Linked DNA regions of Homo sapiens: region 1 is linked to region 2. The links come from fine-mapping of genetic effects on gene expression. A gene starts in region 2. The other region holds a variant in brackets. All regions are shown on one strand. Distances are from middle to middle. Region 1 overlaps MBTPS1 (membrane bound transcription factor peptidase, site 1). Region 2 holds the start of HSDL1 (hydroxysteroid dehydrogenase like 1).

The links.
Region 1: its variant is fine-mapped to the expression of HSDL1 in whole blood (INTERVAL, PIP above 0.99).

The regions. Positions count from the first base shown.
Region 1 is chr16:84,067,176-84,071,175 of GRCh38, reverse strand. MBTPS1 (membrane bound transcription factor peptidase, site 1) reads left to right here. Exons shown (of 23, transcript NM_003791.4): 13 at 400-588; 14 at 1,138-1,310; 15 at 2,722-2,837; 16 at 3,353-3,509. Among named protein-coding and RNA genes, the nearest start is that of SLC38A8, 26 kb to the right of the region's middle. The variant C/A (reference allele first, on the strand shown) is at 1,976.
Region 2 is chr16:84,143,024-84,147,023 of GRCh38, reverse strand. It overlaps HSDL1 (hydroxysteroid dehydrogenase like 1), which reads left to right and starts at 1,847. Exons shown (of 6, transcript NM_031463.5): 1 at 1,847-1,944. DNAAF1 (dynein axonemal assembly factor 1) reads right to left here and starts at 1,716. Exons shown (of 12, transcript NM_178452.6): 1 at 1,460-1,716. The coding sequence starts at 1,583. RefSeq lists silencers at 1,663-2,112, 2,273-2,322, 2,373-2,422.

The DNA.
Region 1 (4,000 bases), 76 kb after region 2:
TGCTTTCAATTAATGGGATTTTTTTAAAGCATACAACTAATTGGGAAATAACCTTAAATCTGAGAGTTTTCATCTATATAAGTTCTCTTAGTCAGATGAAGTTTTTCATCAAAGAACTTTTGACAAAAGTTCCTGTTTTATAATAGAAAAAAAATGTCTCCATAAAATTGGAAGCTGTCAGAAATAGTGGTTTCTAGACTTTTCTAGTGATACGTCCGAGGCAGTCCATAGGCTACTTTGGTTGTAGTTACTTAGTATCTGTGTATAAATTTTATTTTTCCCTATTTAGTGAAGTATTTCTCGGAACCAGTTTTGGTAAGAATTGAGTTTTTCTGGTTTCCACGTGTTTTCTCCTGGAGCTTTTCACTTTAGCCTTTGTCTGATTTCTTTTTCCTGCAGCCTGACTGGCAGCCCTATTTGCCACAGAACGGAGACAACATTGAAGTTGCCTTCTCCTACTCCTCGGTCTTATGGCCTTGGTCGGGCTACCTGGCCATCTCCATTTCTGTGACCAAGAAAGCGGCTTCCTGGGAAGGCATTGCTCAGGGCCATGTCATGATCACTGTGGCTTCCCCAGCAGAGACAGAGGTAGGGATATGCGGGAAAGTGGCTTGTTTTCTTAGCTGTTTGACATCACCTTTCAGGGAGGGACAGGCCAAATGCCTGGGGTCTCCATTGGAAGTACAGTTGACAGATAGGCTTATCCTCGATGGCCACAATTGATGGTTCCAGGGCCTCCGGAGCAGCTGGAGTTTGAAGAAGTAGCTCAGTCAGTGAGTGCTAGGGCTTGCCGTTCTGTGGCCACACAACAGCAGAGAAGACTGTTTTCTACCAGATTTCAAGCTCAAAAGGAGTGCACCAAAAATATACATTCTCTAAAAGGAAATGTAGGGTTAATCCTATGAGGCTCTAGTAGTTTTTATTGATAGAATATGCCTTAAATTTTAACTGTTAAACTCTTTAAGTGTTTGAATGGACTTAGTTATGATACATGAATCTTTCATCAGACATTTGTTATTGGAAATTCTTGTGTTCAAATTATTTAGGTTAAGTTGATAAATAGAAATGATGTTTTCAAACCTGAAAGTTTCTTTCTGCACAATGAGGGCGTTTCAAGTTTCTTTTCTTTTTTTTTAGTCAAAAAATGGTGCAGAACAGACTTCAACAGTAAAGCTCCCCATTAAGGTGAAGATAATTCCTACTCCCCCGCGAAGCAAGAGAGTTCTCTGGGATCAGTACCACAACCTCCGCTATCCACCTGGCTATTTCCCCAGGGATAATTTAAGGATGAAGAATGACCCTTTAGACTGGTAAGCACCTCACAGGATGCACTTCACCTCCCCAGCCTCCGTGGTGGGAGGAGGCACCACTGTTCCCGCAACTCTTGGAAAGATGTTGCTCAGCTTCTCGTGGAGCCTGGACTCTGATGACGCTGAGATGTTCAGGCTTTTGCCATGCACTTAGGGCAGCCTGACTTCTCTTTTGAAACTTTCACAAGTATGATTATGCAGTAAAAAGCTTGAAGTTCTCTTTTCCTTCCTTCTCCCATTGCGCCAGTCAGCAAAGCTGTCAGTCTTACCCTCAAACTGCATCCTGGATCCTTCCATCTCTGGCCTTCTCCCTGCTCCCACCCTAGTCCATGCCATTGTCATCTCTTGCCTGGACCACATCAGCAGCTCCTGAGTGCCACTGCTGTTGCTGTTGTTGCCCTAAATTCCACTCCTCTTCTGGCAACCTTGGTAATCTTAAAACAAATTCTAACACAGTTTGCCTCAAGCTCTCCAGTGACTGCCTATTCTGACTTCCTCACCCGGCCAAGCCCCCTGGTGTGACCCATGCAGCCCTTCAGAAGCTGGCACTGCTTCCCCCGCAGTCCCCATAGCCGCTCTCCCTGTGCCTGTTCCCTGCAGGGCAGCTGGGCTGACTTTCTCTTGGTGCATTAGCCAAGCTCATTTCTGCTTTTATGTTTGGACTA[C/A]GTTTGAACTCCATGCTGAAAGTAGGGGAAGGGGAAGCATTGAAAGATGTGACCAGGATAGTTACAGAGTCAGACTTGCCTTTTAAAATAAGATGTCTCTGGCAGCCAGATTGGAGGGGCTCAGACCAGAGACGGGTAGACAGGAAGTGGTGGGAAGTTCATAGACCAAGGCAAGCCCGTTGGCCTGCAGGAGAGGACCTGGAGTCTGTGCTGCTGGGAGGTGAGAATGAGGTGACCCCTAGAGGGTGTATACAGTGTCCCATAGGAAAGTGAGCTCATTTGGGAGGGACGGGGATGGAAAGTTGACCAGTGGCAGTGATATCAGTTAGCTGTGCCGCTGTCTTAGCACCGTGGCCCTGCGTGGCTTGTTCCAGCGTCCCTGCACTCCCGCGGCTATTTGCTAAGCTCTTCTGTCAGACACAGATGGTTGCCAGCAATTTACTTGAACGCGACTGCTACAGTGATGGTCCAGGACACATTAAACATGTCTTTGGCCATTTCTTCTGGTCATTTTGTCTCTTTCATGCACCTGCCAGGCACATGGTTTCTTCTTATCAGCCATTTCCGTGTGTCCAGACCAGAGCACACAGGTCTCCTAAGCTGATGCCTGTGCCAGTGGGCCAGCCATCCAGGCCTTCTCTGTGGGCCATGGCATGGTGCTCTTGCAGAGCCGGCCCTGTGGCCAGATATGCCTTTATTGCCAGTAAAGATCGATCATTTTAATGCTGTGGCCTATTGTTTTTCAGGAATGGTGATCACATCCACACCAATTTCAGGGATATGTACCAGCATCTGAGAAGCATGGGCTACTTTGTAGAGGTCCTCGGGGCCCCCTTCACGTGTTTTGATGCCAGTCAGTATGGTAAGTGGCACTGCTGTGCTAGCCAGATGGTCTTTCCGCCCACTTTGGATGTTTGTTAAATGTCTGAGGAGTGAATCCCAGTTTTCAGTGATAGCTACCAAGGGAGTATGCGCCGTGGGCCCCACAGCTGGGTGAGCCTGGGGCGAGGCTCTGAAACAGGTGGTGGCGGTGTGACATTCAGCTGAAATACAAGACAGGCTGATTGGAGACAGGGACATTCGTACTCTTTTTTCTTTAAGTTAAAAGCAGCTCTGCTATATATTTTGCTCCTTCTCAAGTGAATGAAAATCTTTATCCTGAGCACCACAAGTGAAATCAGATCACAGTTAGTCGCTGTGTATTGCTGGATCCTGGTCCTCTACTTTTTAGTCCCTTTTAAAGTGGTACAGGGTGGCACAAACCAGACTGTTAGGTGTCAGTAACCTGAGACATGTACCTGGTGACACTGTTTCTGCCGTGGTGGTGTCCTGTCATTCAGAAGTGACAGTTCCCAGCTTTGGTTCTTTGTTCATCAGGCACTTTGCTGATGGTGGACAGTGAGGAGGAGTACTTCCCTGAAGAGATCGCCAAGCTCCGGAGGGACGTGGACAACGGCCTCTCGCTCGTCATCTTCAGTGACTGGTACAACACTTCTGTTATGAGAAAAGTGAAGTTTTATGATGAAAACACAAGGTACTGTTGATACGCATTGGTATTTGGATAAGACTTTTGGGGAATCAAATTCTACCCAGCAAATACTTAAGTGATGATTTGACCTGTTGGTGGTCTTTCCAGTTGGCACAGACACATTCAGAGAGCTTGATTAGAAAAAAAGCCCTTTCGACTGAGTGCGGTTGCTCACGCCTGTAATCCCAGCACTTTGGAAGGCTGAGTTGGGCAGATCGGTTGAACCTGGGAGGCCAAGGCTGCAGTGAGCTGAGATCAAGCCACTGTACTCCAGCCTGGGTGTCAGAGAGACCCTATCTCAAAGAGAAAAAATAAAACACAAAAAAGAAAATAGTCCTTTATACAGTAGAGAGGTTCTTGAAAGTTGCTCATAGAGTAAGATGTTTATTGAGTATGAGTACTGTTAATAATATAGAGGGTTCATTGTCTTTCCTTGTTAATCTTAGATATGAGATACTTCAGGTTTAAACTTCTGTTTAATTCTTTTCCACTCTCTG
Region 2 (4,000 bases):
CTTGAACCCAGTGTCAATGGCTCCAAGACCAGTGTCTTTCCACTGAGTAATGCCAGTTCCCTATGGCTCCTCATACAAGGTTCATCTGGACAGTTGATGCTTAAGATATATTTGTTGCCTGGAACACAAATCAGCTGGTTTATTTGTTGCCTGCGTTCAGAAACTGGAACACAAATCAAGTGGTTTTTTAATGTAATCACTAAAAGGTTTCCTTTAGGGCACCAAGTCTAGTGGGAGCAGAAGCTGAAGCCAGGCTTCCTTCTTTCCTTTTTTTTTTTTGAGACGGAGTCTTGCTCCATTGCCCAGGCTGGGGTGCAGTGGTGTGATCTTGGCTCACTGCAGCCTCAGCCTCCCCCTTGGCTCACTGCAACCTCTGCCTCCGGGGTTCAGGGAATTCTCCTGCCTTAGCCTCCCAAGTAAGTGGAATTACAGGAGCACGTCACCACGCCCTGCTAATTTTTGTGTTTTTAGCAAAGACAGGGTTTCAATATGTTGGCCAGACTGGTCTCGAACTCCTGACTTCAGGTGACCCACCTGCCTCTGCCTCCCAAATTGCTGGGATTACAGGCGTGAGCCACCGTGCCTGGCCATGAAGGTTATCTTTCAAGTCCATTCTGGCAAACTTTGGTGAGGGGATCACACACTGACCCCAGAACCAAGTCTTCATTCGGACTCTCTACCCTAGGTCAGGCACTGGACTAGACTCCAAATTCAATCAAGATGTCTTGCCCTGACACAACATGCAGTCTGGAGGGAGAGAAAGCCTTTGATCTTACATAGTGATAGCAATAAAGGGACACATTTAAAGCATCAAAGTTGGGACCAGGGAGAATAGCGTGGTGGGTTAGGGCTGGGGCTCTGGAGACCCAGACTGTCTGGGCCTGAGTCTGGTGGGTTTTGTTTGCTTGTTTGTTTGTTTGTTTGTTTGAGACGGAGTCTCCCACTGTCGTCCGGGCTGGAATGCAATGGCGAGATCTTGGCTCACTGCAACCTCCGCCTCCCGGGTTCAAGCGATTCTCCTGCCTCAGCCTCCCAAGTAGCTGAGACTACAGGCGCCCGCCACCACGCCCAGCTCATTTTTTGTATTTTTAGTAGAGACAGGGTTTCACTATGTTGGCCAGGCTGGTCTCGAACTCCTGACTGACCTGATGATCCGCCCGCCTCGGCCTCCCAAAGTGCTGGAATTACAGGCGTTGAGCCACCGCACCCGGCCAAGTCTCTTCTGTCACTGACTAGCCGAGGGTTATCTGTTTGGTGCAAGTTTTGTAACCTCTTAAGTATGTTTCCTCCTCAGTACGAAATGGCGAGAGAAGCCCCTACTGCAGAGCGTTGCTTGCTACCATTATTATTATTGTTATTATTTGGCTGTGAAGATCGGGTATGTGGTGTGGGAAGGGGGCTGGAGCGCCTAGCCGTGTCTGCCCCTCGCCCACCGCCCTCCCTGGGGGGCAGTCGGCACCTTCCTTGCAGCCCCCTCGGCCTGCGCTCCCGTGGTCACCCGCAGACTCCTCCACGCCGGGCTCCTGCGCGCAATCCAGCTCTGCTGCACCACCTGTCGCAGGCTCCGAGGGCTCAGGGTGCATGTTTACTTCGGCGACACCGAACGCCCCGCAGCTTTGGGGGGCCCAGGTTCGCGGCGGACGTCGCTACGGCCCCAGCCCAGCCAGAGAGTACCCTCTTTCCTTCTTCGCCAGCCGCTGGCGCCCTAGTCTTTACAGCCCAACGCTTCCCCGGTCGCCCAGGCAACCGCTGCGCACGCGCACTCGGGACGGACCGGCGCGCTGGGGACGCCGGGGGGTGGGGGCGGGTCTGAGACGGCTCCGCCCCCGGCGCGTACGCGGGTCACGTGAGGGCGCGGCGCGGCAGCAGCTCCGGCGGCCGAGACGGGGGCGGCGGCCGCGCGGGTCTGGCGGGACCGGTTTGGAAGACTTTGCCGGCCTGCAGGTACCGCGCCCCCCGCGCCCTGGGCGCCCTCTCGCGGTCCTTTCGCCCCAGACCCCTCCTCGGTCCCCTCAGCGCCAGCCGGCTGCTTGGCGAGACCCCTCTGAGCTCTCACCACGCCCCCCAGGCCCCGGGCCCCCTCCGCTGCATCCGGCCCCGAAGCCCCTTGGCGCCCCTGACCCCAGGAAATCTTCGTCCCTCCGTCCCGTGAGACTCCTTCCTTCAGACCAAAAAGCCCCAGCCCCGCCCCTTCACATCTCAGAGCCCCCCTTCCCCCGGCTCCATCCTCACGCCCCCCGCCGCGGCGCTGCACCCCTGTTCTCTCTCTTCCCCCGGGCCTTGCCCCCCAAACCGCGAACCCCGTTGTCGCCGGCGCATGCCCTGCCCTCCCTGCAGCCTCTCACCCGGCTCCTCCCCCGAGCGGCCCCAGCAATCGCCTCCTTTGTCGGTGCTTCTTTATTCTCATTTCTGAACGATTTGGTTTGAGTTGTTGTTGCCGTGTTTTTCTAAAATGGAAATATGCAGCGGTCGTGGGTTCAGCCAGGATTTCCGAGTTTGCTCGTGTTGACTGGGCCTTGCCGGGTGCTGGAGGGGAAGGGCTGGGAAGAAGAACCAGGCAGGTCCCCGTTCTGAACGTGCCACCCAGACGCAGCCCCAGAAACCGGATCGCTGCAGCGCCCCTCGGCGATCCCAACATGATGTGTACAGGTGACTGCGAGGCAGTCGGGGGGTCTCACAGTGGGCTCCCTGGACAGGACTCTGCGCCTTGCTATACCTCCATCTGAATTGCAGGTAGCCCCTTTCTGAGTTGTGGGGTCTTGGGTGTGCGACTTTACATCTATAAGACTCAATTTCCCCATCTATAAACGGGAGAGTCTGACTGCGCTTTATAAGATTAATGAGAGAATAAAGTGAGACAATAGGAATAAAGCACTTAGCAGAGTCTTTTGCATAAAGTGAGCTCTCAATTTTACTCTGACCGCCACAGGAGAGAGAGAGAGAGAGAGAGGGAGGGAGGGAGAGGGAGAGGGAGGGGGAGGGGGAGGGTGTTGATTGATTGATTGATTCAGACAATCTCGCTCTGTCGCCCGGGCTGTAGTGCAATGGTGCCTGCGATCTCAGCTCCTGCTACCTCTGCCCGCCATCCCGCACCCCGGGCCCAAGTGATTCTCCTGCCTCAGCCTTCCGAGTAGCTGGGATTACAGGCACGTTCTACCACACCCAGCTAATTTTTTTTTTTTTTTTTTTAGTAGAGACGGGGTTTCGCTGTGTTGGTCAGGGTAGCCTTGAACTCCTGGCCTCAAGTGATCTGCCCGCCTTGGCCTCCCAAAGTTCTGGGGTTACAGACATGAGCCACTGTACCCGGCCAAGTTTGTGGTTTTAATCACTGCTGGAATATTCTAGGGCAACAGAGTTGAACATATTGGTGCTACTTTTTTTTAAAGTAGGTTTTCAAAAATCGAAATGACTTACGCATGACATAAAATTTATCATTTTAGCCATTTTACAGTGTATAACTCAGTAGTTCTTGCTATAGTCACAATGCTATGCAACCATCACCAGTAACTAATTCCAGAACATTTAATCACCTACAAAAGAAACCCCAACCCCATTAACAGTCATACCTCTTTTCTCCCCCTGTCCCTCAGCAGCCCTAAGTTATCTTCTGTCTCTATGGATTTGCTTATGCTGGACATTTCATACAAGTGGAAACATACAACATACGGCCTTTTGTATTTGGTTTCTGTCCTTTAGCATAATGTTTTCAAAGTTTATCCATGTTGTAGTATGTATCAGTACTTCATGCTTTTTTATGGCTGAATAATACTCCTTTGTGTGGATAACACCACATTTTGCTTATTCATTCATTTGTTGATGGACATTTTGTTTGTTTCTGCCTTCTGGCAGTTGTGAGTAGGCCACTGTGAACATGCAAGCAGGAGTTTTTATGTGAGCAAAAGTTTCTAATTATCTTGGGTATCTGCCTAGGAGTGGGGTACTCTGAATATTTTAATTCTTACTGCATAAATACAGACATGATGGTGAAGAGTGTTGGATC